Homo sapiens: one gene and its partners. The protein of the gene in region 1 interacts with the protein of each later gene in a biochemical or structural test. Each region holds a gene or a part of one and is shown on either strand. Other genes may lie near its edges.

Region 1 (7,027 bases):
CAGATATTCCTGGATTGATTGAGCCTGTCTTGAGTGGTGCAGGGAAGCTACTTGGGAGGAGGAGGCTCAGAGACAGCAGAGTGGGAGGGTAAAGGATGTCCTCAGGAAGGAGGTGACATTTGAGTGGGTTCTGGAAAGCTGTGCAAGAATTGGCCAAGTAAAGAAAGGGAGGGACAGGCACTCCAGGCAGGGAAGAAGCTCTGGTTAAAGGCATGGAGGGGTCGATAGAGCAGGCAGAAAAGAGGATTCCTGAGGTTAGGGAGGGGTGGGGACATTCCTGTAATTATCCGTGAGGGGAGATTTTGGGTCCAGGACCCATGGCTGCTTTCTTGGCTCCCTCAGTGGGGCCCAGAAACCACACAGGTAGCTGTGGGACATGGAGGTCTGCTTAGCAGTGCCTAGTAAGAAAGACTTGGTCTGCTACAGGCTGGGCATGGTGGATCACAAGGTCAGGAGTTCGAGACCAGCCTGGCCAACATGGTGAAACCCCGTTTCCACTAAAAATACAAAAAAATTAGCTAAGCACAGTGGCGGGTGCCTGTAATCCCAGCTACTCGGGAGGCTGAGGCAGGAGAATCGCTTGAACCTGGGAGGCAGAAGTTGTGGTGAGCCGAGATCATTCCACTGCACTCCTGCCTGAGCAACAGAGTGAGACTCCGTCTTAAAAAAAAAAAAAAAAAAAAAAGACTTGGCTACAAGGGAAGGAGCCTATACGAGGACAAAGGACATTGTCAAAGAGAATGGGGTAAATATTTTCATTTATTTATTATTATTATTTTGAGACAGAGTCTTGCTCTGTCGCCCAGGCTGGAGTGCAGTGGATGCAATATTGGCTCACTGCAACCTCTGCTGCCCGGGTTCAAGCGATTCTCCTGCCTCAGCCTCCCGAGTAGCTGGGACTACAGGTGCATGCCACCACGCCCAGCTACTTTTTGTGTTATTAGTAGAGACGGGGTTTCAGCATCTTGGCCAGGCTGGTCTTGAACTCCTGACCTCGTGATCCACGAGAATGGGGTAAATATTAAAGAGTCCTAAGTGTTTGAAATGCTTGTTTTCTGGTGCTGTAAAGAAATAGCATTTGAACGTAAATTCAATTTTTTTTAGCAAGGCCATATTTATACTTTCTGCAGAAAGGGTACACTCACCAGTTGTTTTGCCATGAGAATACATTGAATAAAGGAGACAGGGTTATTTATAACTTGATGTGTTTACTCTGCTGCTGTATCCAGTTTTTATTGGCTGGAACAGGACCTCACATTCTGTATTTGTCCCAATTGGCTAGCAACTTAGAACTTTTTTTTTTTTTTTTTTTTGGAGACAGAGTCTCACTCTGTCGCCCAGGCTGGAGTGCAGTGGCATGATCTCGGGGTCACTGCAAGCTCCACCTCCCGGGTTCACACCATTCTCCTGCCGCAGCCTCCCAAGTAGCTGGGACTACAGGTGCCCGCCACCACGCCTGGCTAATTTTTTTTGTATTTTTTAGTAGAGATGGGGTTTCTACGTGTTAGCCAGGATGGTCTCGATCTTCTGACCTTGTGATCCGCCCGCCTCAGCCTCCCAAAGTGCTGGGATTACAGGCATGCGCCACCACACCTGGCCAGAACTTTTGAAAAGAGGCAAAGGCAGAGGAGAATAAAGGAAGGAGGAAGTAACTTGTGGAATGCTGAAAAAGGTAAAAATAACCTTTAAATAAGGAAGAGGAACAGGCTATGATCTAATGCTTGCTTGGACTAATATAAGCATGCCAAGGTAAATATTTAGGCTAAATTGTGGGAGCTAAGAATATAAAGTACATTGATTTCTTTATTATGGCTAGCAGATATTTAAGAATGTTAGTACAGGTCTTTGAATAAATTTTGCTTTTAAGAGAAGTTACTATTTATTTCTAATTAGATGGGGAGGAAAGTCTTTGAAGAGGAACCTCTACTTTACTTTTTACATAAGCAACCTGGTGGCTGCTGGGGAAACCCTTAAAACACTGGGCAGTAGAACTCCACTGAGGTTAGTGTCAGCTCCCTTGAGGCCAAGAGCAGCTGCTCACTTGGGAGTTTTGGCTGCTGTCGCTTGGCCTCTGGGCCCTCCTGGGGCTGGTTCTGTGCTCCTTAGTCCGTGGGAAGTTACTAGACCCAGCTTCATTTCCAAAACATCTCAAGCTGCCATTTGATAAGAGTAGCATTGGAACACAGAATCAGGCTTATCCCTGTTGCCTAGCGAGGGCTTGGCTGGATGGTGGGTGTTCCTGGATCTTGTATGAATCTCTCCTGCAATATCTGGTCCTTTCAGAGTTTCCTGGGACAGATTGACCCTAGTAAGGCTAAGGAATTGGGATAGTAGTAGCATCTTCCGTCTCTGCGCAGTACTTTACATACATGATCTCATTTAGACCTTATAACAGCTCTGCAAGGCTGGTACTGGTGAGGAACTTGAGACTTAGTAGTGCAGTACTTGTCCCAGGTTGTCCAGTGCAAAGGATAGCAGGACAGGGCACAGGGAGAAGAGCACGGAAACACCAGTGGGAATACAAGGTGACAGGCTCTGTTGGGAAGCTCTTTTTTTTTTGGGGGGGGGTGAGATGGAGATTTACTCTTGTTGCCCAGGCTGGAGTGCAATGGCACAATCTCGGCTCACCGCATCCTCCACCTCCCAGGTTCAAGTGATTCTCCTGCCTCAGCCTCCCGAGTAGCTGGGATTACAGGCATGTGCCACCACGCCCAGCTAATTTTGTATTTTTAGTAGAGACGGGTTTCACCGTGTTGCCCAGGCTGATCTTGAACTCCTGACCTCTGGTGATCCGCCTGCCTCTGCCTCCCAAAGTGCTGGGATTACAGGCCTGAGCCACTGCGCCTGGCCAGCTCTGTCTCTTGATTAAGGTGGAGGATATTCTCAGCTTGTCTTTTGGGACCAGGCAGACCAGAAATGCTGGAGCATATTGGCAAACCAGCAGCCTAAGGATTTGGAAGAAAGGCTGGTCAGAGTGTCAGTTGCTTATCAACCAGCTGAGAGCCTGAACTTTCCGGAAGACATGGCTCTTGGGTAGCCACTGGGAACAGGCTTAAAACAGCTTTGGTTCTTTGAGTTCTTTGTGGGGAGTGATTGTCTGGTGTGAATCACAGTTGATAGTGCCCTGAAAGGTTCAAGGCCACATTTCCCAGGGGAAGATAAGCTTTCCACAATGTATAGAAACTCAGAAAACTCCAAGTTCTTTATGCTAAGAAACAAAAAGGGCTCAGAAAGGCTGAACACAAAGTCAAGGAAGAGAAATTGATAACTTTTGGTTAAAGGGAAGAGTTTCCAGCCTTTTGGCCAGGGCATCCACTACCAAGTCCAAATCCTGACTTGGCCTCAAGCTTTTGTAAAGGGATGCATCGTGTCCCTTTTGACCTGCTGATAGTTTTTTTGAGATGGAGTCTCACACTGTCACCCGGGCTAGAGTACAGTGACGCGATCTCGCCTCACTGCAACCTCTGCCTCCCAGGTTCAAGTGATTCTCCTGCCTCAGCCTCTGGAGTAGCTGGGATTACAGGTGCCTGCCACCACGCCCAGCTAACTTTTGTATTTTCAGTAGTGATGAGGCTTCACCATGTTGGCCAGGCTGACCTTGAACTCCTCACCTCATGATTCGCCCACCTCAGCCTCCGAAAGTGCTGGGATTACAGGTGTGAGCCACCATGCCCAGCCGACCTGCTGATAGTTTGATAAAACAGAAGTTTTACTTTCTGGAATTTCTACTCATTTTATGTTTTGGATGGTTTCTCTCTCCGTAAGCATTCAGTATTCTTGAATCTCAAGTTTTGAAAGGAGCCCTAACTTCAAGTCTACTCGCTGGCTTCTTAATGAAGTGAACCATTTCTATTGCCCATTTAGTTCTTCCTGAAACCCTGACATTCTGGTGTTCATGTGACTCTTCTTTCCCCCTTGCTACTCAGAGAAAGCGTCGTGGTGGAGCAATAAATTCTAGACAAGCTCAGAAGCGAACTCGGGAAGCAACCTCCACCCCCGAGATCTCCTTGGAAGCAGAACCCATAGAACTCGTGGAAACTGGTAAGATTGCCAGGGACACTACAACTGTGGGGTGTTAAAGTGGAGAGAGAACACTGTACCAGGGTGAGCTAGTAGAAGGTGCTTTCAGTGTCTTTAGAAGGCCTATGCAGTCTCACACTCACCATGTACAACTCAAAGCTTCACAGATTCTGAAATAGCTTCTCAACTGGGCTAACTGTTCAACTCTGGTAATGTGCAGCAGTGGGGTAGGATCCATTTAAAAAAAAATCTAGCGCAAATGAGATAGCCCACCTTTTCTATCTGAAACTGCATCCCCAATTGCTGGACCTTGTAAAGTACTTCGCTTTCCTCTTCTGTTTTTCATTAGGACATGAAATCACCCAAGAAGGCAAACTTGTCCACAGAGCTCCCTGTGTTGGAGCTTGGTATAGGCAGAGGCCAGATTGGATTTCCCCTTCTGCCTGCTCAAGAAGTGGTTGATGGCTGGCCTAAGTCCCTTTGCTCTGCATATATTGTTTTTATAACTAGGATACCTGCAAACTGGCATTTTATTTTTACTTATTTATTTTTGAGATAGAGTCTTGCTCTGTCGCCCAAGCTAGAGTGTAGTGGTGCAGTCTCGGCTCACTGCAAGCTCCACATCCTGGGTTCACGCCATTCTCCTGCCTCAGCCTCCCAAGTAGCTGGGACTATAGGCACCCGCCACCACACCCGGCTAATTTTTTGTATTTTTAATAGAGACAGGGTTTCACCATGTTAGCCAGGATGGTCTCGATCTCCTGACCTTGTGATCCACCCGTCTCGGCCTCCCAAAGTGCTGGTATTACAGGCGTGAGCCACTGCACCCGGCCATGCAAACTCGCGTTTTAAACAGAAGAAACTTAGTGCAAGATAAATTTCATGGGCCCCCCAGGAGAAATGAAGTTCTCTATATGGTCTCTGAGTTTCACTTCTACAAATGAGTTCTTGAAAGCCTTGACTTGAGGCTAGGATCCTGGCTCTAGACCAAAAAGGAACGAACTGCTTTCCGTCATGGCACTTGTCATCCTCTAGGCAGTCTTACCCCTGTGTGTACTTAGGGCTGCCCATTAGAGCACTGTTTTGTTTTTGTTTCTGTTTGAGGCAGAGTTTCGTTCTGTCAGCCAGGTTGGAGTGCAATCGCGTGATCTCGGCTCACTGCAACCTCTGCCTCCCAGGTTTAAGCAAGTCTCCTGCCTCAGCTTCCCAAGTAGCTGGGATCATAGGCGCCCACCACCACACCCGGCTAAATTTTTTTTGTATTTTTAGTAGAGACGGGGTTTCACCATGTCAGTCAGGCTGATCTCGAACTCCTGACCTCAGATTATCCACCTGCCTTGGCCTCCCAAAGTGCTGGGATTACAGGCCTGAGCCACCCGCCTGGCCTAGAGCACTGTTTTTGTAAGAGCCCAGAATTGTGTTCACCAGAAAGAGAATGGTTCAATAAATTGTTGTATATCAGTATATGGACTGTTGGACAGCCCTTCTTTTTAATAAAGAATGCAATAATTTTATATAAATTATATTGTATATGTAAGATTATCACGGTTTTTATTCTTGTGAAACTTTATGATACAAGAAAATAAAACAGGCCAGCCAGATTGCTTGAGCCCAGGAGTACCAGACCAGCCTGGACAACATAGTGAGACCCTGTCTCTATAAATAAAAAAATTAGCCAAGTGTGGGAGGCTGAGGTAGGAGGATCACTTGAGCCTGGAACATTGAGGCTGCAGTGAGCCGTGATCGTGCCACTGCACTCTAGCCTGGGCAACAGCAAGACCCCACCTAAAAAATAAATAAAAGAAGTTACGTTGGGTTGGGCGCCATGGCTGGCTCCTATAATCCCAGCACTTTGGGAGGCCGAGGCGTGCAGATCACCTGAGGTCAGGAGTTCAAGACCAGCCTGGCCAACATGGCGAAACCCCATCTCTACTAAAAATGCAAAAATTAGACGGGCGTGGTGGCGGGCGCCTGTAATCCCAGCTACTTGGGAGGTTGATGCAGGAGAATCACTTGCACCTGGGAGGCAGAGGTTGCAGTGAGCCGAGATCGTGCCACTGCACTCCTGCCTGGACGACAGAGCGAGACTCTGTCTCAAAAAAAAAAAGTTAAATGCATTACAAGACACTTTCCCCAAATATTAGACCAATACTGTTTCTTAAAAAACTTCATTTAGTGTTTTGTTGTTGTTGTTGTTTGTTTGTTTTTGAGATGGAGTTTTGCTCTTGTTGCCCAGGCTGGGGTGCAGTGGCGTGATCTTTGCATCCCGGGGTTCAAGCAATTCTCCTGCCTCAGCCTCCCGAGTAGCTGGGATTACAGGCATGTGCCACCACACCTCGCTAATTTTGTATTTTTAGTAGAAACGGAGTTTCTCCATGTTGGTCAGGCTGGTCTCGAACTCTCAACCTCAGGTGATCCGCCCACCTCAGCCTCCCAAAGTGCTGGGATTACAGGTGTGAACCACTGTGCCTGGCCCATTCCGTGCTTTTTAATATTAATATTAATAGTAATCAGAAATAAAAATGGTTGTGCGTCATTTTTTACTTTATATAAATGGAAGTTGTACGTTAACTGTTTGGTCCATGTCCTTCTCACCTTTATCCTGTGCACATGTAGACATCACAGTATACCCTAAGGGCTGAAAGGCAAGCTTCACAACAGATGCAACCCATTTTGTATGTTGAGGTTCTAGCTATCAGTATATATCACTGTTATTCTCCATCCAACTAGGGAGACAAACTTGAGAGATAAATGGAAATTAAAAGTTTGTCCTTGGCCGGGCACGGTGGCTCACGCCTGTAATCCCAACACTTTGGAAGACTGAAGTGGGTGGATCACAAGGTCAGGAGTTCAAGACCAGCCTGGCCAAGATGGTGAAACCCCATCTCTACTAAAAATACAAACAAAATTAGCCAGGCATGCTGCCAGGCGCCTGTAATCCCAACTACTCGGGAGGCTGAGACAGAGAATTGCTTGAACCCAGGAGGCGGAGGTTGCAGTGAGCCAA
Region 2 (7,027 bases), on another chromosome or scaffold:
AGACTGGGTTTTGCCATGTTGGCCAGGCTGGTCTTGAACTCCTGACCTCAGGCGATCCACTCGCCTCGGCCTCCCAAAGTACTAGGATTACAGGTGTGAGCCACTGCACGCGGCCAAGTGTGTTATTATATTAGAAGGTGATAGTGCAGTGGAGAAAAAGCATGGAAGAAGACTAGGAAATTGATCATTTGGGGATTTCGATTAGGAAAAAATAAGCTGTAACATGGAATGACCATGTCCTTAACCCAAAAAGCTTTTAGTAGATTTATCTAACCCACACCAGGATGTTGCTGCTGCTGCTGAAGTTACTTAAGCTCTAAGAGGAACTGTATTTTTTTTAAAATGCCATATTATACAAATGTAACATGGGATTTCATTACTTGGTAATGAGTAAAACAAGTAAGGGTAGACTTTGAATTTCTTATTGGAGAGTATGTATTTTAAAGTTGAGCTAGTAACTGCTTTAATGTATTCTGTCAGTGCGTCTCAACCATCTTTTAGGTTCTGCCCACATAGAAAGTAAGTTTTGAATAGTACACTAAAGTAGATGAGATTGGGAGGCTAGAAGCACCTGGCAGGCAGCACCTCATGAAACTCCCGGGATGGGAGATCAATATTCTGGCACACCTGTAAATGCTGGGGACGCTCTACTCCCTAATATTGCTAGAGTTCTGCCATATACAATTCAAGATAGTGGTTTTCAGACTTATGTGATCCCTTTGAGACATTCTTTACTCATTTTCTTTTTTTCTTTTCCTTCCTATTGTTTCTTCCTAGAAAAAAGTAATGTATCACCAAGTAAGATTACAGTTAAATTATGTTTTAAGAAACCTTTTCTTTTTTGGAGACAGGGTCTCACTGTGTCACCCAGGCTGGAGTGCAGTGGCGCTGTCTCGGCTTGCTGCAGTTTCAACCTCCCTGGGCTCAAGTGATCTTTTCCATCTCAGCCTCCTGAGTAGCTGTGACTACAGGTTTTTGTATTTTGTAGAGACAGGTTTCACTATGTTGCCCAGGCTGGTCTGGAACTCCTGGGCTCAAGCAGTCACCTGCCTTGGCCTCCCCAAATCCTGGCATTACAGGCGTGAGCCTATGTGCCCAGTCTTAAGAAACCATCATTAAGAGAATGTTATATTTGTGGTGATACCTAAAATTGATAGGAGTTAAACAGATCTACATTTAATTTTGGTAATTCTAAAAATCTTTAAATATTACATGAAAAGTTTCTTGTAGCAAATTTTTAGTTTTAGCGTTTTAGGGACTGATTATTTGGTAGAAACTTTTATCCCCAAACTGCAGAAGCATTCTTTTATTGAAGTGAATTTTTATGTGATTCTAAACATTTTTGAAAGTGTAGCAGTATTGAGGTATTCTTTTCTCAGGTGAATCCTAAAATTGAATTTTTTGTTGTTGTTGTTAAATGCTTTTTTAAAATTTTATTTTATTTTATTTTTTTGAGACAGAGTCTCGCTGTCGCCCAGGCTGGAGTGCAGTGGTGCGATCTCGGCTCACTGCAGGCTCCAATCCCCGGGCTTCATGCCGTTCTCCTGCCTCAGTCTCCCGCGTAGCTGGGACTACAGGCGCCTGCCACCTCGCCCGGCTTATTTTTTGTATTTTTAGTAGAGACGGGGTTTCACTGTGTTAGCCAGGATGGTCTCCATCTCCTGACCTCGTGATCCGCCCGCCTCGGCCTCCCAAAGTGCTGGGATTACAGGCGTCAGCCACCGCGCCCGGCCGTGTTTTTAAATTTTATAACCTTTTTTCTTTCCTATGTATTATTTAATGTTATGAAGTACTTGACCTCCTGGATATAATTTCTGATTTTAGAATTTAACTGCTTCATTCAGACTTCTCGTAAGTTAGCAATTTTAACATATATGCTGTCTAATTTTCTAATTTGACATTCTAGAATTGTTAATTTTAGATAAAACCTCCTGTTACGTTGTGTCTTAAGATCTTAGAAAGTCAGTGCATAGTAGTTGATGTTTGTCAACTCTAAAAACAGTGATATAATTGAGAGAAATGGTCAGTTGAATTACCCTTGTGAAATTTCTGCATTTACTTCCTCTCTTACCTAGCTGGGTCTTAGACTGTTAACTGTCAATTTGTAGGGATGGAAGGAGGTTGAGATTTAATAACAGGAGATAAAGTATGAATGTGTGCTTATTTTCAGACTTAGAAATAATGCATTATTTTGGATTATTCACAGCTTTTAAAATTTTTTCTCTCTGAGACAGGGTCTCACTCTGTCACCCAGGCTAGAGTGCAGTGACGTGGTCTTGGCTCACTGCACCCTTGTCCTCCCAGGCTCGGGTGATCCTCCCACTTCAGACTCCCAAGCAGCTGGGACTATAGACACGCCACCATGCCTGGCTAATTTTTTTATTTTTTGTAGAGATGGGTTTTTTCCCTGTTGCTCAAGTTGGCCTTGAACTCCAGGACTCAGCCATCGGCCCACCTTGGCCTCCTAAAGTGCTGGGATTATTACAGGATGAGCCATTGCCCCCAGCCCACTGCTCTTTGCTCAAGTAATTGGCTATAGTGATTGAGAGAGATGGAACATGGACTCTTACAGACATTACTGTTGTAGTAGTCATGTTGCCTTGACAGTTAGATACGACGTCTGTTTGTTGATGTCAGTATGGAAGGGTTACAACATAATTAAAAGTTAGAAAATAGGCCAGCATGGTGGCTCAAGCCTGTAATCCCAGCACTTTGGGAGGCTGAGGTGAGTGGATCACCTGAGGTCAGGAGATCGAGACCAGCCCGGCCAACATGGTGAAACCTAGTCTCTACTAAAAATACAAAAAAAATTAGCCAGGCGTGGTAGAGCGCATCTGTAATCCCAGTTATTTGAGAGGCTGAGGCAGGAGAATCCCTTGGGCCCAGGAGGCGGAGGCGCCTTGCAGTGAGCGGAGATCATGCCACTGGACTCCAGCCTGGGCGACAGAGTGAGACTCCAGCTAAAACAAAAAAAAAAAAAAGGAAAAAAAAAAAGGATTATCTTTGAACAGTAAAAATTTACAATTATAATTTTACTCAGTACACAAGTATACACATGAGAACTTCTTTTTAAAATATGATACATAAAGTAACCTTGTGTTATAAACTCAGGAATATTTCTTCTTTTCTTTAGCTATAAAAACTATAAAGTAGTTTAGTAAATGCTTAATTCTTGACTGAAAAGTTACATAATTACACCAATGATTTCTCTGTGATGCCAAACTGTGTTCATTACTTACACCTTCACAGCATCAACAGATTTCAGAGCTTAGTTTCACTACTCAGTTACTGTGTAATTTTGAGTAAGTCACTTTCCAAATAAGTACATACTTACCAGCAGTTACTGCTATGTCTCTATTAGAATGAAATTAGGTTAGTTGACTTCCTTTTTTATAAAGAATATGAAGATACTATGAAGAACATTACAGTTATGGCAAACGCATGCAGCAAGAAAATAAGCCACTTTTTTGGTATATTATATAAATATGAATTTTAAATTATTCCTTTATAGGTACTGAACCTTACTATTGTAGAACTGCTTAATAGACTGACCTAAAATAGAATTAAACTAATGCAGAATTAGCTATTTAGGAATGCTTTTTGAAGTGTTAAGTAATGGACAAATATTTACGGTAGTCACTGTGTGCACATTTAAGGGATAGAGGGAAAGTATTTTTTCCTGCCTTAATGAAGCAGGAAATCTAAAGCAGAAAGTAATATCAGATTATCCTTCAAGGCTGGCCACCGCGCCTGGCCTTCAAAGATAATCTTCATTATCAAGGAGAGTTTTTAAGGTGGGATGATCCCAGCGTGGGACAAAAATTAGCTGGGTGTGGTAGCACATTCCTGTGGTCCCAGCTACTTGGGGGGCTGAGGTGGGAGGATCACCTGAGCTCAGGGAGTTCGAGGCTACAGTGAGCCAGGATTGTGCCACTCTACTCCAGCATGGGTGACAGAGTGAGACCCTGTCTCAAAAAATTTATATAAAAATAAAAAATAAAGTGCCGCTGCACTCCAGCGTGGGTGACAGAGTGAGACCCTGTCTCAAAAAGTATATATAAAAATAAAAAATAAAGGGATGATCTGGCATCTCTCTGAAAATATAGTTCTCCTTAGTATTTACCTAAATTAAGCATTTGTTAGATGAATTTTATTCCATCTTTATATTATTGCTGTCTGCTTCATTATGAGTAGTATCTGCAAAATACTTGTTCATGTTTGTCAGGTATTAAAGTGTCCTCATTTGAAAGCCTTTATTTGTGAATGTAGTTCTTGGATCACCAAAAAACAGCGCATGCTTTTGAGTTGTTTTATTCTAAGAAAATACTCTACTTTCATTTAGCTGCTTTTGTAAAACTTCATTAGAGATAAAGAACACAGGCTCTGTAATGAAAAGACCCAAATTCAGGTCCTGTTTCACTACTTTTTAAAAAGCTATATTGCACAGAAATCATTATGGAGTGTAGTGGGTAGACAAAAACAGATTAGCAGATAGATAAACATATAAAACTGCATTTTGTATTTATCTTACCCAAACTTGTTTTCTGTAGTACTCCCCATGTTGGTATATAGGCAACTTCATTCCATTTGCTCAGCCAGAAACCTTGGGTTCATTCCACCCTACAGTCAAACCATTAGCAAATTTCTATCTGCTCTGCTTTCAAAATATATCCAGAATTCAACTGATTTTCTGAATTCCTGATGTAAATACAGATGACATCCTCATTTCTTGCCTGGATTATATTAGCAGTGTCATACTGGTTTTCCTACTTCTGCCCTCATCCGTTTACTTATCTCTTTAGATTCCCAATAGATTCTTTCTAAACAAAAGTCATGTCATTTCATTCATAATCCTACTATGACTTCCCTCTCTTCCTCAGAATATAATCCAAAATCCATGTTATAGCCTAGGAGGTCTTAACCTCTCCCAGGTACTCATGTCTCTGTAGCCTTATTGTCCTCCTTGCTACTCCTGCTTGTTGTTTTCTCTATTTGGAATGCTCTTCTCACACATCTGGATGATCTGGATGGCTTCCTTTTTTTTTTTTTTTTTTTCTTTTCACTCATAGCTTTGTTCAAATATTTTTTTTTTAAGAGAGCCCTTCCTGACTACCCAATATAAAATAGCTCTCCCATCCCAGCGCTAATAATTTCCTTTACCTTGATAAATTCTTCATACCTTTGGCTATGTATTAATTAGCTTATTTTCTATTTTCTTGGATGTAACCTAGTGCCTGACATGTAGGAGAGTTCAGTAAATGTCGAATAAATGAATAAGTGAGCACAGCTTTTGGAATCAGATAACCTTGGGTTTGAATTCTAGTGTTGTTGTTTAATAGCTGTGTAACCTCCCACCTCCAAATATAAAATAGGGATGATAAAAACAGGTTATTTCATTTCCTGGATCTTTGGAATTGGTGAATTATCTTTTAATGCTATGTTTCCCATTTTAAGCTAGCTCTACTAGATGCTTTTGTCTTTTTTTTTTTTCTGATTTCTAGTCCCTGCACTAGCTATCAATGGAAAAAATAGATTTCCTTTATGACCATGTGTTACATGAGGTCTTTCTTTGTATTTTCAGACCACAGGAAGGAGGGTGGAAGTATGGTTTCCAGTAAGTGTGTGTTTTTTTGCCAATCCTCTTCAAAACTTGAGAATTAGTCAAATAAAATTGTGAGCTATTAAAGTCCATTTTGACATCCTTTTAATGCACAATTTTTTCTTCTAATTGAAATATAATCCACATATAAAACTTACCCTTTTAAAGTATACAGTTCAGTGGTTTTTAATCTGTTCAGAACCATCACTGCTGTTTGCAGAACATTTTCATCACCCCAGAAAGAAACTCCTTATCCATTAGCAGTCACTCCCTATTTCCCCCTTTCCCCAGTGTCTGGAAACCACTCATCTATTTTTTGTCTCTGGATTGGTCTATTCTGGGTATTTTGTGAGAGTGGAATTATATTATATATGACCTTTTGTGCCTGGCTTCTTTCACTTAGCTGTTTGTTTGAGACAGGTGAGACAGGGTCTCATTTTGTCACCCAGGCTGGAGTGCAGTGGCACAATAGGCTCACTGCAACCTCTGCCTCCTGGGTTCAAGTGATCCTCCTGCCTCAGCCTCCGTAATAGCTGGTACTACAGGCATGCACCACCATACCCAGCTAATTTTTGTAGTTTTTTTTTTCCCTGAGACAAGAGTCTTGCTCAGTCTCCCAGACTGGAGTGCAGTGGCACCATCTCGGCTCATTGCAACCTCCGTCTCCCAGGTTCAAGCAATTCTTCTGCTTCAGCCTCCCGAGTAGCTGGGACTGCAGGCGTGCGCCACCACACCCAGCTAATTTTTGTATTTTTAGTAGAGACGGGGTTTCACCATGTTGGCCAATCTGGTCTCTTACTTCTGACCTCAAGAGATCCACCTGTCTTGGCCTCTTAAAGTGCTGGGATTACAGGTGTGAGCCACTGTGCCCAGCTAATTTTTGTATTTTTGTAGAGACGGGGTTTAACCATGTTGGCCAGGCTGGTCTTGAACTCCTAGACCTTGTGATCCGCCCGCCTCGGCCTCACAAAGTGCTGGGATTACAGGCATGAGCCACTGTGCCCGGCCTTAAAAAAAGCTTTTATATAGACAGATTCACTGTGTTGCCGAGGCTGATCTTGAAACTCCCAGTCTCAGCACCCCTCCTGCCTAGGCTTCCCAAAGTGTTGCGATGACTGGCCTGAGCCACCATGCCCAGTTCATAATGTTTCTGAGGTTCATCCATGTTGTAGCTTGTATGAATACTTATTCCTTTTCGTAGCCAAGTAATGGCCCATTTTTTGGTTGTACTGCAGTTTATCCATTCACCAGTTATTTAAATATCAGATATTTGTGTTTCCTGTTTTCATTCATCAATGGATTAATTGACAGTTTGGATTGTTTCCCCTTTTTAGTATGAATAATGCTGTGAACATGTATGTACAAGTTTTTATGTAGGCTTGTGTTTTAATTTGTTTTTGTTAATATACCTTGCATGTAGGAGGACCT
Region 3 (7,027 bases), on another chromosome or scaffold:
CCCATGAGACTGATGGACATGGACTAGCTGAGGCTACACAGTCATCCAAACCTGGTAGTGTTATGCTGAGACTTCCAGGCCAGGAGGATCATTCTTCTCAAAACCCCTTAATCATGAGGAGGCGTGTTCGTTCTTTTATCTCTCCCATTCCCAGTAAGAGACAGTCACAAGATGTAAAGAACAGTAGCACTGAAGATAAAGGTCGCCTCCTTCACTCATCAAAAGAAGGCGCTGATAAAGCATTCAATTCCTATGCCCATCTTTCTCACAGTCAGGATATCAAGTCTATCCCTAAGAGAGATTCCTCCAAGGACCTTCCAAGTCCAGATAGTAGAAACTGCCCTGCTGTTACCCTCACAAGCCCTGCTAAGACCAAAATACTGCCCCCACGGAAAGGACGGGGATTGAAATTGGAAGCTATAGTTCAGAAGATTACATCCCCAAATATTAGGAGGAGCGCATCTTCGAACAGTGCGGAGGCTGGGGGAGACACGGTTACGCTTGATGATATACTGTCTTTGAAGAGTGGTCCTCCTGAAGGTGGGAGTGTTGCTGTTCAGGATGCTGACATAGAGAAGAGAAAAGGTGAGGTGGCTTCGGACCTAGTCAGTCCAGCAAACCAGGAGTTGCACGTAGAGAAACCTCTTCCAAGGTCTTCAGAAGAGTGGCGTGGCAGCGTGGATGACAAAGTGAAGACAGAGACACATGCAGAAACAGTTACTGCCGGAAAGGAACCCCCTGGTGCCATGACATCCACAACCTCACAGAAGCCTGGTAGTAACCAAGGGAGACCAGATGGTTCCCTGGGTGGAACAGCACCTTTAATCTTTCCAGACTCAAAGAATGTACCTCCAGTGGGCATATTGGCCCCTGAGGCAAACCCCAAGGCTGAAGAGAAGGAGAACGATACAGTGACGATTTCACCGAAGCAAGAGGGTTTCCCTCCAAAGGGATATTTCCCATCAGGAAAGAAGAAGGGGAGACCCATTGGTAGTGTGAATAAGCAAAAGAAACAGCAGCAGCCACCGCCTCCACCCCCTCAGCCCCCACAGATACCAGAAGGTTCTGCAGATGGAGAGCCAAAGCCAAAAAAACAGAGGCAAAGGAGGGAGAGAAGGAAGCCTGGGGCCCAGCCGAGGAAGCGAAAAACCAAACAAGCAGTTCCCATTGTGGAACCCCAAGAACCTGAGATCAAACTAAAATATGCCACCCAGCCACTGGATAAAACTGATGCCAAGAACAAGTCTTTTTACCCTTACATCCATGTAGTAAATAAGTGTGAACTTGGAGCCGTTTGTACAATCATCAATGCTGAGGAAGAAGAACAGACCAAATTAGTGAGGGGCAGGAAGGGTCAGAGGTCACTGACCCCTCCACCTAGCAGCACTGAAAGCAAGGCGCTCCCGGCCTCGTCCTTTATGCTGCAGGGACCTGTTGTGACAGAGTCTTCGGTTATGGGGCACCTGGTTTGCTGTCTGTGTGGCAAGTGGGCCAGTTACCGGAACATGGGTGACCTCTTTGGACCTTTTTATCCCCAAGATTATGCAGCCACTCTCCCGAAGAATCCACCTCCTAAGAGGGCCACAGAAATGCAGAGCAAAGTTAAGGTACGGCACAAAAGTGCTTCTAATGGCTCCAAGACGGACACTGAGGAGGAGGAAGAGCAGCAGCAGCAGCAGAAGGAGCAGAGAAGCCTGGCCGCACACCCCAGGTTTAAGCGGCGCCACCGCTCGGAAGACTGTGGTGGAGGCCCTCGGTCCCTGTCCAGGGGGCTCCCTTGTAAAAAAGCAGCCACTGAGGGCAGCAGTGAAAAGACTGTTTTGGACTCGAAGCCCTCCGTGCCCACCACTTCAGAAGGTGGCCCTGAGCTGGAGTTACAAATCCCTGAACTACCTCTTGACAGCAATGAATTTTGGGTCCATGAGGGTTGTATTCTCTGGGCCAATGGAATCTACCTGGTTTGTGGCAGGCTCTATGGCCTGCAGGAAGCGCTGGAAATAGCCAGAGAGATGGTGAGTATGAGAAATCTCTTACCAGCTTGGGATTTTTATTTCATTTGGTTCCTTTTCTTGCATGTTTTTGTTCTTACATGTCACATGATTATTCCTCCAAATTAAAGTGCCTATGCCCATGTGATGGACAGAAAATGAAATAGGTAATTTGGAAGATTTGTATAGACTTCTAAAATCGTTTTTCATTTTTTGAAATGTATAATGCTTATGAAGCATATTATTATATTTCAAGTTTCTTGGGCCACATCTTTTCTAACGCACACTTTCCAGTTAGGATATTTATTCTTTGGATCTGTTTCATAACTTATCCTGGGGCAGATCATCAACATCATCATCTTCATTTCTTTCTCTCCTCTATTGAATGTTCTGTTTCCTGAATCCCATTTCTTCCTCATTCTTAAAGTGAGCCTTCATTTAAGGGCGTGCATCATCCTTTAGTAGTTTTGTGAGAAAGGGTGTGTGGGAGTGTAAAAATGTTGAGATCCTATATATCTGAGCATGACTTTATCCTAGCCTCATGCTTAATTGAGAGTTGGCTAGGTGTGGAATTCTAGATTGGAAGTGATTTTTCTCTCACTGTCTTGCAGTCGTTCTTCCTGGTTTGTCCACTAGCTTCCAGTGCTGCAGTTGAGAAGACTGCCATTCTAATTTTTCATCCCTTGATGCATGTTCTGTTTTTCTTCTGGAAAGTTTGAGGATCTTCTCCTTTTCCCTAGGGTCTTGAGATGTCAAAATGATAGGTCTTGACTAGGTCATTTCATGGTTGTGTTGGCTACTCTATGAGATCTTATGTACGCTGATGTCTTTCAGTTCAGGCAATTTGTCATGTGGTAGTTCTTTGAAAATTTCCTTCCCTCTATTTTCTCTGCTCTCTTTATAATTCCTGTTAATATAAGGCATTTTACCTCCTGGATTGATCCGCTGTTTTTATCTTTTCTCCTCTGTTTTATGTTTTATCTCATTATCTTTTTGTTCTGATTTCTCTATGCTTTCTTCAGCTTTATCATCTAATCTTTTTTGTATGTGGGTTTTGTTTTGGTTTTGTTTTGTTTTGTTTTGTTTTGTTGTCACTCAGGCTGGAATGCAGTGGTGCGATCACAGCTTACTGCATTCTCGAACTCTGGGGCTCCCTGGTACCTGGGACTAAAGGTGTGTGCCACCATGCCCAGCTAATATTTATATTTTTTGCAGAAACAAGGTCTCACTGTGTTGCCCAGAGTGGTCTCAAACTGCTGGACTCAAGCAATCCTTCCACTTCGGTCTTCTAAAGTACCAGGATTATAGGCATGTGCCACAAGCCACAGTGCCCAGCCTTCTAGCCTTTTATTTACTTATTTTTTTTCTTGATATTTTGAAGAGCTTTTTTTTTCTCTGAATGTACTGACTTTTAAAGAATAATCAGAGCCTAGTTGATGGCTATAATCGTTTCTCTTGCTTTTTGAATACATTATAACGTATTTTTTGTTTTTGTTTTTGTTTCAGTTTCATGCCCTTACCCAGGCTGGAGTGCAGTGATGTGATGATGGCTCACTGCAGCCTCCAACCACTGGGCTCAAGGGATCCTCCCAAGTAGCTGGACCACAGGTGCATGCCAGTACACCTGGCTAAGTTTTTTACTTTTTGTAGAGACAGCATCTCACTTTGTTGCCCAGGCAGGCTGGTCTCACCACCTGAGCTTAAGCAATCCTCCCACGTCAGCCTTCCAAAGTGCTGGAATTACAGGCGTGAGCCACTACACTTGGCCTGTACTATAATTTTTAAAAATCTTTGTCTGTTTCCTATTTTCTCTTTCTTGTTAGAGGTTCTTCAGATGTCTTGATTTTTTTTTCTTTATTGAGATGGGGTTTCGCTCTTGTTGCCCAGGCTGGAGTGCAATGGCGCAATCTCAGCTCACCGCAACCTCCGCTTCCCAGGTTCAAGCGATTCTCTTGCCTCAGCCTCCTGAGTAGCTGGGATTAGAGGCATGCGCCACCATGCACAGCTAATTTTGTATTTTTAGAAGACATGAGGTTTCTCCACGTTGGTCAGTCTGGTCTCGAGCTCCTGACCTCAGGTGATCCGCCCACCTCGGCCTCCCAAAGTGCTGGGATTACAGGCTTGAGCCACTGCACCCAGCCTTGATTTATATTTTTAAGAGAGAAAGAGATGTTTTAAAAAATGACTTGAAGCTCTCTGTTACAGTATGGGCCAGGCTTGCTAGCCTGTAGTCCTCTCCGTAGAATAATAAGGCAGCCAGCCAGCATATGGGTCTTTTTTCTGAGTTGAGTTTTCCCAGAGGAAAAAAAAACATTTTTTTTTTTGTTCCAGAGAAAAATCTTGAGATTTCCTGTCTAGAGATGCAAGCTTGGCTGCCAGCGTCCTAAAAGCCAAGTGGAGAAGAGGATGGTAGGGTTGTGTGGGTGGGGATATGGGCTCATGATTCAGTGCGCGGACTTTGACAATCTCCCGCCTGTTTTCAGTGGATGAGAACAGTTACCTGGTTGAACTGGGTTAAGGATCTAACTCCTCTTAGAAACTTTGGGCTAATGCTCTATTTTTCAGCCCCATGTTGCACCCCCACTTACTGAGGCCTCCCCAAGCTCTGTGCCCTAAAGTGGCTGGCTTTCTGGGGGCTCCTCCACTGCACTCATCATTACTGTCTGCTTCCTTGCAGTGCACAGAATCACTGTCACTCACTTCATCTCTCATGTTTCCAGCTTCCCATTGCTCATGGTGTCATGAGTTTATCTTGCAAGTTTATCCACTTTTTCGTGGGAAGGGATCAGATGGATGTACAACTGTATGTTTAGTAGTCTACCATATTATTTATAACCTTCTGGCAAAAAGAAGTGCCCATAGACTATAGTAAAAATTATATTGAATGTGAAATATATATTTGAAATTAGAACATTTTAATTCAGTCATGCAAGGAGCTTGCCCTTTACTCTTATCATGTCCCCTATCTCCCAATTACGGTCTTTTCTTTGTGCCTCCTTCCCTGTCTCCATTATTAACATCACGGTGAAACTCCAAGTTTGAGGTAGAAGATTCACTTCCCCTAAGAAGTTTATACACAATGACATTTTAAAATGCAAAGATCCTAGGAGGATGTAACATTTAAGACCCTCAAGTACAAAATTCTTTAGTCAAATTTGAGCGCTCAAAATAATCCGTTAATCATCCTCTTGTCAAAGTTGAGTTCTTGCTTCCCAACTTTCCTTGGAAAGTCACAGTATTTGGTGGGTTTTTTGTTGTTTGTTTTTTGAGACAGAATCTCACTTTGTTGTGGGGTTTCACCATGTTGGCCAGGCTGGTCTGGAACTCCTGACCTCAGATCATCCATCTGCCTTGACCTCCTAGAGTGTTGGGATTACAGGTGTGGGTCACTGCGCCCAGCCTGTTTATTGCTTTTTGATGTGCATATGTGTATGTGACCATCTGACAGTGTTTTCGTTATTTCAACATTTATTATTAACATATCTCAGCCCAGTTTTTTTGTGTAAACTTTTAGGTGTTCTATAGCAATAATTGATAATCAGTAATCAGGCTAAATCTTCCCCAGCAAATCTCTAGATCCTGTGTCTCAATTCAGGTCTTGGGCCGAGCATGATGGCTCACGCCTGTAGTCCCAGCACTTTGGGAGGCCGAGGTGGGCAGATCGCCTGAGGTCAGGAGTTCAAGACCAGCCTGGCCAACATGGTCAAACCCCGTGTCTACTAAAAATATGCAAAAATTAGCTGGACATGGTGACAGGCACCTGTAATCCCAGCTACTCGGGAGGCTGAGGCAGGAGAATGGCTTGAGCCTAGGAGACGGAGGTTGCAGTGAGCCAAGATGGTGCCACTGCACTCTAGCCTGGGCGACTGAGTGGGATTCAATCTCTAAAAAAAATAAGAAAAAAGTTAGGCTTGTTGTCTCTTTGAGCTGATGTACCACTATCACTATAAGATCCGTTTCTAGCTTTTATTTACCTAGCTTTTATTCTACTTTTCTCAGTGCACTCAAGGACAAATTAAAATTACACTAACTTGCCTTTTATTTAATTTGACAGATGATGTTTCAATTGTCCAGGATACTTTGAGTCTAGTTTTATCTTACTAGGTTTTAGCAGATAGATGCATTCAGTTTTGGTCTTGCTTAATGAGCATGCCCTTAATCCTATCATGTAAGATAAAGTCACATATATTTCATTAGAGATCCATTTTGGCCTATGTATTTATCAGGTGTTTTGACAAGCACGATGTTATATTAAAATATTGGGAAGTCCTCAAGAGACATTGCTCCTCTCCCTGTGTCACACTACTCTGAAAATTGCCGAAAACTAGAACATTTCTATATTTAAAAATGGTGTTTACTTCCCTTCCTTTTTCCCTTCCTTTTTCCCTTCCCACAAGTGTGGGACTTGTGAATCTATTCATTTCAGCACAAGTCCCCTTTGCTTCTGTCCAACATTGACCACTGTTTGCCTTGGTATAATTGTGTATGAGAATCACAATGACCTCTGACATGAATGATATTACAGAGGTAATTGCCTCTGAATGGGTATGGATATAACTTGGTATGTACAAATCACCTTTGAGACATTAAGGAATGCCAAGGCGTGCAGGGATGTGACAGAAGGTAGATCTGGTGGCCATGGATCCCTTGAGGCTGGATAGCCCTACTAGTGGGGGAGTCGGGGAGTCTTTGCTTGTTCCCCTCTCATAGAAGGTGCCCCTCCCAAATTTTTCCAACCCCCCTTGGGAAACTTTTAATCTTTTTTTTTTACCTGACAGTATATGTTAACTGGTTTTAGGTTAATTTTTATTTTCTATTTTTATTTTTATTTTGAGATGAGTCTTGCTCTGTTGCCAGGCTGGAGTGCAGTGGCACAATCTTGGCTCACTGCAACCACCTCCTCGTGGGTTCAAGTGACTCTCCTGCCTCAGCCTCCCAAGTAACTGGGACTGCAGTCATGCACCACCACACCTGGCTAATTTTTGTATTTTTAATAGAGACAGGGTTTCACCATGTTGGCCAGGCTGATCTCAAACTCC
Region 4 (7,027 bases), on another chromosome or scaffold:
AGGGGGACAGGCCCTCCAGGCCCTCCAAGCAGCACCATTGTCAGGGCAGACCTTTACAACTCAAGCCATCTCCCAGGAAACCCTCCAGAACCTCCAGCTTCAGGCTGTTCCAAACTCTGGTCCCATCATCATCCGGACACCAACAGTGGGGCCCAATGGACAGGTCAGTTGGCAGACTCTACAGCTGCAGAACCTCCAAGTTCAGAACCCACAAGCCCAAACAATCACCTTAGCCCCAATGCAGGGTGTTTCCTTGGGGCAGACCAGCAGCAGCAACACCACTCTCACACCCATTGCCTCAGCTGCTTCCATTCCTGCTGGCACAGTCACTGTGAATGCTGCTCAACTCTCCTCCATGCCAGGCCTCCAGACCATTAACCTCAGTGCATTGGGTACTTCAGGAATCCAGGTGCACCCAATTCAAGGCCTGCCGTTGGCTATAGCAAATGCCCCAGGTAAGATTTCCAATCTTGTGCATTTATTGGGAACCAACTCTAGCATCGTAGCTGAAACTTGAGTCTAAAGAAAGGAATAGAGCCTTTTGAGATAACACTTTCTTGAGGGTTAGTCATTTAGGCAAATAAATTTGAGAAATAGAGATTCTGTTTAAGTAATTTGGAACTGAAGTAAAGGAAACTTCTCCAGTTAGTTTGAGGAAGGAGCACTTCTGGGCAATATTCTGGAGTCTGTAATACTCAGTGTTTTTGGTGCTGCAGAATAATGGTTGACAAGCTTTCTGTAAAGGGCCAGATAGTAACGTAAATATTTTAGACATTGTGGGCCTCATGTGGTCACATTTTCTTTTCTTTTTTTTTTTTTTGAGACAGAGTCTTGCTCTGTCATCCAGGCTGGAGTGCAGTGGCGCGATCTCGGCTCACTGCAAGCTCCGCCTCCCAGGTTCACGCCATTCTCCTGCCTCAGCCTCCCGAGTGGCTGGGACTACAGGTGCCTGCCACCACGCCCGGGTAATTTTTTGTATTTTTAGTAGAGACGGGGTTTCACCATGTGAGCTAGGATGGTCTCGATCTCCTGACCTCGTGATCCGCCCGCCTCGGCCTCCCAAAGTGCTGGGATTACAGGCGTGAGCCACCGCGCCCGGCTTTCTTTTCTTTTTTTTCTTTTTTCTTTTTTTTTTGAGATGGAGTCTTACTCTGTTACCCAGGCTGGAGTGCAGTGGCGTGATCTCGGCTCACTGCAACCTCTGCCTCCCGGGTTCAAGCGATTCTCTTGCCTGGGCTTCTTGAGTAGCTGGGATTGCAGGCGAGCACCACCACGCCCAGCTAATCTTTGTATTTTTAGTAGAGACAAGGTTTTGCTATGTTGGCCAGGCTGGTCTCGAACTCCTGACCTCATGTGAATCCACCTGCCTCGGCCTCCCAAAGTGCTGGGATTATAGGTGTGAGCCACTGCACCCAGCCACATTTTCTGTTTTGTATGTTTTTTTTCCACACCCCTTTAAAAATGTAAAACCATTCTTAGCTCTAAGGCCTTCTTTGGCCTGTAGGCCAACTCCTCCATAGGATAAAAATTGATTATGGGCCGGGTGTGGTGGCTCACGCCTGTAATGCAGGCACTGAGAAGACGAGGCAGGTGGATGGGTTGAGTTCAGGAGTTCAAGACCGGCTGGGGCAACATGGCGAAACCCTGTCTTCGACAAAAATACAAAAATTGGCCGGGTGTGGTGGTACATGCCTATGGGCCCAGCTACTCGGGAGGCTAAGGCATGAGAATTGCTTGAATCTGGGAGGCAGAGGTTGCAGTGAGCCAAGATTGCACCACTGCACTCCAGCCTGGGCAACAGAGTGAGACTCTGAAAAAAAAAAAAAATACAAAAATTAGTCGGGTGGCTGGGCACGGTGGCTCACGCCTGTAATCCCAGCACTTTGGGAGGCTGAGGTGGGTGGGTCACCTGAGGTCAGGAGTTCAAGACCAGCGTGGCCAGCATGGCGAAACCCCTTCTCTACTAAAAATAAAAAAATTAGCCAGGCATGGTGATGCGCGCCTGTAGTCCCAGCTACTCAGGAGGCTGAGGCCAAGAATTGCTTGAACCTGGGAGGCAGAGGCTGCAGTGAGCCGAGATCACATCACTGCACTCCAGCCTGGTTGACAGAGCAAGACCCTGTCTCAAAAAATAAAAATAAAAGGCGGCCGGGCGCGGTGGCTCACGCCTGTAATTCCAGCACTTTGGGAGGCCGAGGCGGGTGGATCACAAGGTCAAGAGATCGAGACCATCCTGGCTAACACTGTGAAACCCTGTCTCTACTAAAAATACAAAAAATTAGCTGGGCATGGTGGCGCGCACCTGTAGTCCCAGCGACTCAGGAGCCTGAGGCAGGAGAATCACTTGAACCAGGGAGGCGGAGGTTGCAATGAGCCGAGATCGCGCCACTGCACTCCAGCCTGGGTGACAGAGCGAGACTCCGTCTCAAAAAAAAAAAAAATAAATAAAAATAAATTTGATTATGGGCTGGGCGCGGTGGCTCACGCCTATAATCCCAGCACTTTGGGAGGCCGAGGTGAACAGATCATGAGGTCAGGAGTTCAAGACCAGCCTGACCAATATGGTGAAACCCCGTCTCTACTAAAAATACAAAAATTAGCCGGGCGTGGTGGTACAAGCCTGTAGTCCCAGCTACTTGGGAGGCTGAGGCAGGAGAATCGCTTGAACCTGGGAGGCAGAGCTTGGAGCGAGCCAAGATCGTGCCACTGCACTCCAGCCTGGGTGACAGAGTGAGACTCCGTCTCAAAAAAAAAAAAAAAATTGATTATGAATTTTACCTGTTTGTAGAACACAGATTAAATCATCAGATATTTCTTGTGAACTGTAACTCCTAATTGAAGGGAAAATGATCTAACGGGTTGCTTTTCAACGAAGTAAGTTCCCTGGTTAGTATTAACCAGAATATCCCACACTCTGAGTGTGCTGGTTAATCAGGATTGAATTTTTTTTTAACTCCTAGTTATCTGAAAAACAAAATCCCATAGCTTCCCTTCACACTAACATATGAGCATCCTAGGTGATTCTGATACTTCTAGGTAGCAGTCTAACTTCCTAGACTGCTTTGAAAGTACTGTGTGTGGTTAGGAAGGGAGAAGGAAAGGGAGTGGGGTAAGTTGGGGTCTGGAATGGAGTGGGGGATGTAGGATTGAGAAGAGTTAGGAATGAGGAGAGCATTGAAGGGAAAAACAGTCTGGGAAGAATATTGAATCTGTTGACCATAATGTTCAGGGTCTTTCATTTTGAACTAAATGTTTCACTATTAATTTGAAATTTAAAACAGTAAACAGATGTAAGTCTATGTAGACTGTATCTTTTTTTTTTTTTTTTTTTCATTTTTGAGACTGAGTCTTGCTCTGTTGCCCAGGCTGTAGTGAGTGGAGTGGTGCAATCTCCGCTCACTGCAACCTCCCCTTCCTGAGTTCCAGTGATTCTCCTGCCTCAGCCTCCCAGGTAGCTGGGATTACAGGCGTGTGCCACCATGCCCGCCTAATTGTTTGTTTAATGGAGACGGGGTTTCACTGTGTTGACCAGGCTGGTCTCGAACTCCTGACCTCAAGTGATCTGCCTGCCTTGGCCTCCCAAACTGCTGGGATTACAGGTGTGAGCCACTATGCCCGGCCTGACTTTATCATTTTAAATTCCATTGTATGGAGCTAATCTTTAATAAAGCACAATAAAAGGATACACATACATCTTTATATGCTGGCACAATTATACAAATACGGAAAATAGTTTAATATCACCAAATAATATCACCCAACTTCTAGGTTTGTTTTTTTTTTTTTTTTCGTTTTCTTTTTTGGGACTGACTCTAGCTTGTCTCCCAGGCTGGAGTGCAGTGGTGCGATCTTGGCTCACTGCAACCTCTGCCTTCCGGGTTCAAGCAATTCTTCTGCCTCAGCCTCCCGAGTAGCTGGGATTACAGGCACGTCCCACCATGCCCATTAATTTTTTGTATTTTTTTAGTAGCGATTGGATTTCACTGTGCTGGTCAGGCTGGTCTCGAACTCCTGACCTCGTGATCCGCCCGCCTTGGCCTCCCAAAGTGCTGGGATTACAGGCGTGAGCCACTGCGCCTGGCCACTTCTAGTTCTTTTGGCATATATATGTGGGTTTATAAATTGTTTACTTTTGTTACCAAGTTCTCATTCCATTTAACTGATTCTTACATAAGTGAGGGTAGCAAATAGGCAACCATATTTCCTGCCTCCTGCAGTTTTGGTAAATCTAGGGGGAAAGTCTGCTTAAGTTCCCTGATTTCTTACATTCCTGTGGTGTGTTTAGAAATACTACATGTTGAGCTTTAACAAGACAGTAATTTTCTTAGTTAATTGAAATCTTAGAATTGAAAGTTAGAGCTGGAAGGGACTGAAGTTATTTAGTACAACTGCCTTATTTTCTAGATGAGGAAATTGAGGTACAGAGAATCACTTAATGAGACAACAGCCAGAGCTGAGGCTAGTTTTACTAGTCTAGGGTGCAACCTGTTTTAACTAGGGACTTGAACAATTCTTTAGATTGTTAAAAATGTATTCGAGCCAGCCTGGTGGCTCACGCCTGTAATCCCAGCACTTTGGGAGACTGAGACAGGCGGATCATGAGGTCAGGAGATCAAGACCATCCTGGCTAACATGGTGAAACCGCATCTCTACTAAAAATACAAAAAAATTAGCTGGGCGTGGTGGTGGGTGCCTGTAATCTCAGCTACTAGGGAGGCTGAGGCAGGAGAATGATGTGAACCTGGGAGGCAGAGCGTGCAGTGAGCTGAGATTGTGCCACTGCACTCCAGCCTGGGTGACAGAGCGAGACTCCGTCTCAAAAAAAAAAAATGTATTCGAAAAGGTGTTTTTGATTTAAGATTTAATGCTCTAAAACTGACAGATGTTTATAAAACATTTATAAAAATGTTTTATAAACTAAACATTTATGGGAATAGAAATGGGAAAAGTTTTATAAAAACTGACCTCTACAACGTAGAAAATTAGACACTTCTGGGCAACCTACACCATCATGTTTATTTTCTATTTGCTCTTAGATTGAAGTGCCCGGTTTTGCTCTTCTTCAGAGCAAACTGTGGGATTATTCCTGTTAATAATTTGGATCCTTGCAATTTCTAAAAGGCTTATAACTTAGGGTTTAGAGAACAGTTATGAGGCATTCTCATTGCTAAATCATGCTCTGGGGAAGTCTGCCATTTAATATGTCATAGACTAGGGCTACCTAGTTGTTACTGATGGTGTTTGAGCTGAAGAAAATGCGTGTGTGTTTCTGTAAGGTAAGAGGAGCTTGACATTCACTAAGGAGATAATGAGGCATTGACAGGCTGTTTTGTAAGAGTTGAGATTGTTTGCTTCATTAATAGGGGTTTTTGAAGATCCAAGTTTTCTCCTTTCTGGCTAGTAATAATTGTGTAGTATTTCCCCTTTAATTGATATGACTTCATCCTTAAAGAAAGATAATAAAATCACTTCCTAGAGGCTTACTCCTTTTTCAGCTTTTGCCTTCCTGCTGGCAAAAGTATCTTGTTTTGGCCAGGCGTAGTGGCTCATGCCTGTAATCCCAGCACTTTGGGAGGCCAAGGCAGGCAGATCTCTTGAGCTCAGGAGTTCAAGACCAGCCTGGGCAACATAGGGATCCCCCATCTCTACAAAAAATATGAAAATTACCTGAGCATGGTAGCACACGCCTATAGTCCCAGCTACTTGGGAGGCTGAGGTGGGAGGATTGCCTGAGCCCGGGAGGTTGAGGACGCAGTGAGCCATGATCACGCCACAGCACTCCAGCCTGGGCAGTAGGGTGAGTCCCTGTCAAAAAAAAAAAGTATCTAATTTTACCCCCTTCTCTGATAGTTATTTTACTGTAAAATTTAACCTTTTTGCAGTATGTTCAACTTCTTGGTACGATGTAGAAAGAACATTGGATGTGAAATGTTGTATGATACATGTATATATCACTGTACAAAATGAGATATATTACATGATTGTGGAAGATTGCAGCTTCCATGGTGTTCACTTAGTCTGTTTACATTCATTATTTTTTAAAATGATCTTTTTTTTTTTTTTTTTTTTGGGAGACGGAGTTTCATTCTTGTTGCCCAGGGTGGAGTCCAATGGTGTGGTCTCGGCTCACTGCAACCTTTGCCTCCTGGGTTCAAGCAATTCTCCTGCCTCAGCCTCCCGAGTAATGCCCACCACCACGCCTGGCTAATTTTTGTATTTTTAATCGAGATTGAGTTTCACCATGTTGGCCAGGCTGGTCTTGAACTCCTGACCTCAGGTGATCTGCCTGCCTCGGCCTCCCAAAGTGCTGGGATTATAGGCATGAGCCACTGTGCCCAGCCGCTAATTTTTGCATTTTTAGTAGAGACTGGGTTTCACCATGTTGGCCAGGATGGTCTCGATCTCCTGGCCTCCCAAAATGCTGGGATTACAGGCGTGATGTTTCTTTTTTTTTAAATTGACACCCCTCCCTCTTTTATCAACAGCTTTTCCTTTCATTTTGTAGTCATATTTTCCCAGATCTTTATTTTATTTTATTTTACTTTTCATTTAAAGCCTCAGATGTTTTTCTTAGCCGCTGCTGAATCCTGAAACTCTTGCCGCAGGTTGACGGGGAGTTGGCTTTTAAAGATTTAAGTTTGGATGACTTCTTGTGAGTTCTGTCTAATAAAGAGTGCAGGGCTGGGCTTTGGCAGGAGAATAGAACATATTTCCTTGATGGGTATAATTCATTCACAAACCAAATTTCAGGTACTAAAAATAACAATTTCACATCTGCTGGGTTTTATTGGGGTCAGGAAAATGTCTTCTCTTAGAAGTTAAGTTGAATGTGATACCAGGGTTGGTTTGCCAAGGGTGTCACTAAACTTGGAGTCAGATTGCTGAGAGCTAATTTGTTAAAAAGTTGTGTTTTAGAGCAGTACATTTGGACATTAATGAAAAGTAGGTTTAGATGATTTAAATGTCTTACCAGTTATCATTTTTGTGCAAAAGGTCATATGAAAGAATTTTCTATTTTAAGATTATA

The links.
Region 2: the proteins of RNF4 (region 1) and UBE2W form a complex in vitro, tested with the Homo sapiens proteins (2 studies listed by BioGRID).
Region 3: the proteins of RNF4 (region 1) and TCF20 form a complex in vitro, tested with the Homo sapiens proteins (one study listed by BioGRID).
Region 4: the proteins of RNF4 (region 1) and SP1 form a complex in vitro, tested with the Homo sapiens proteins (2 studies listed by BioGRID, with this or other methods).

What each region holds. Positions count from the first base shown.
Region 1 is NC_000004.12:2,493,081-2,500,107, forward strand, and holds part of RNF4 (E3 ubiquitin-protein ligase RNF4), read left to right. Parts: intron 1-3,926; coding exon 3,927-4,041; intron 4,042-7,027. UniProt on the Homo sapiens protein: E3 ubiquitin-protein ligase which binds polysumoylated chains covalently attached to proteins and mediates 'Lys-6'-, 'Lys-11'-, 'Lys-48'- and 'Lys-63'-linked polyubiquitination of those substrates and their subsequent targeting to the proteasome for degradation.
Region 2 is NC_000008.11:73,868,856-73,875,882, reverse strand, and holds part of UBE2W (ubiquitin-conjugating enzyme E2 W), read left to right. Parts: intron 1-5,581; coding exon of another isoform or gene 5,582-5,614; intron 5,615-7,027. UniProt on the Homo sapiens protein: Accepts ubiquitin from the E1 complex and catalyzes its covalent attachment to other proteins.
Region 3 is NC_000022.11:42,204,636-42,211,662, reverse strand, and holds part of TCF20 (transcription factor 20), read left to right. Parts: coding exon 1-2,012; intron 2,013-7,027. UniProt on the Homo sapiens protein: Transcriptional activator that binds to the regulatory region of MMP3 and thereby controls stromelysin expression. It stimulates the activity of various transcriptional activators such as JUN, SP1, PAX6 and ETS1, suggesting a function as a coactivator.
Region 4 is NC_000012.12:53,383,168-53,390,194, forward strand, and holds part of SP1 (transcription factor Sp1), read left to right. Parts: coding exon 1-455; intron 456-7,027. UniProt on the Homo sapiens protein: Transcription factor that can activate or repress transcription in response to physiological and pathological stimuli.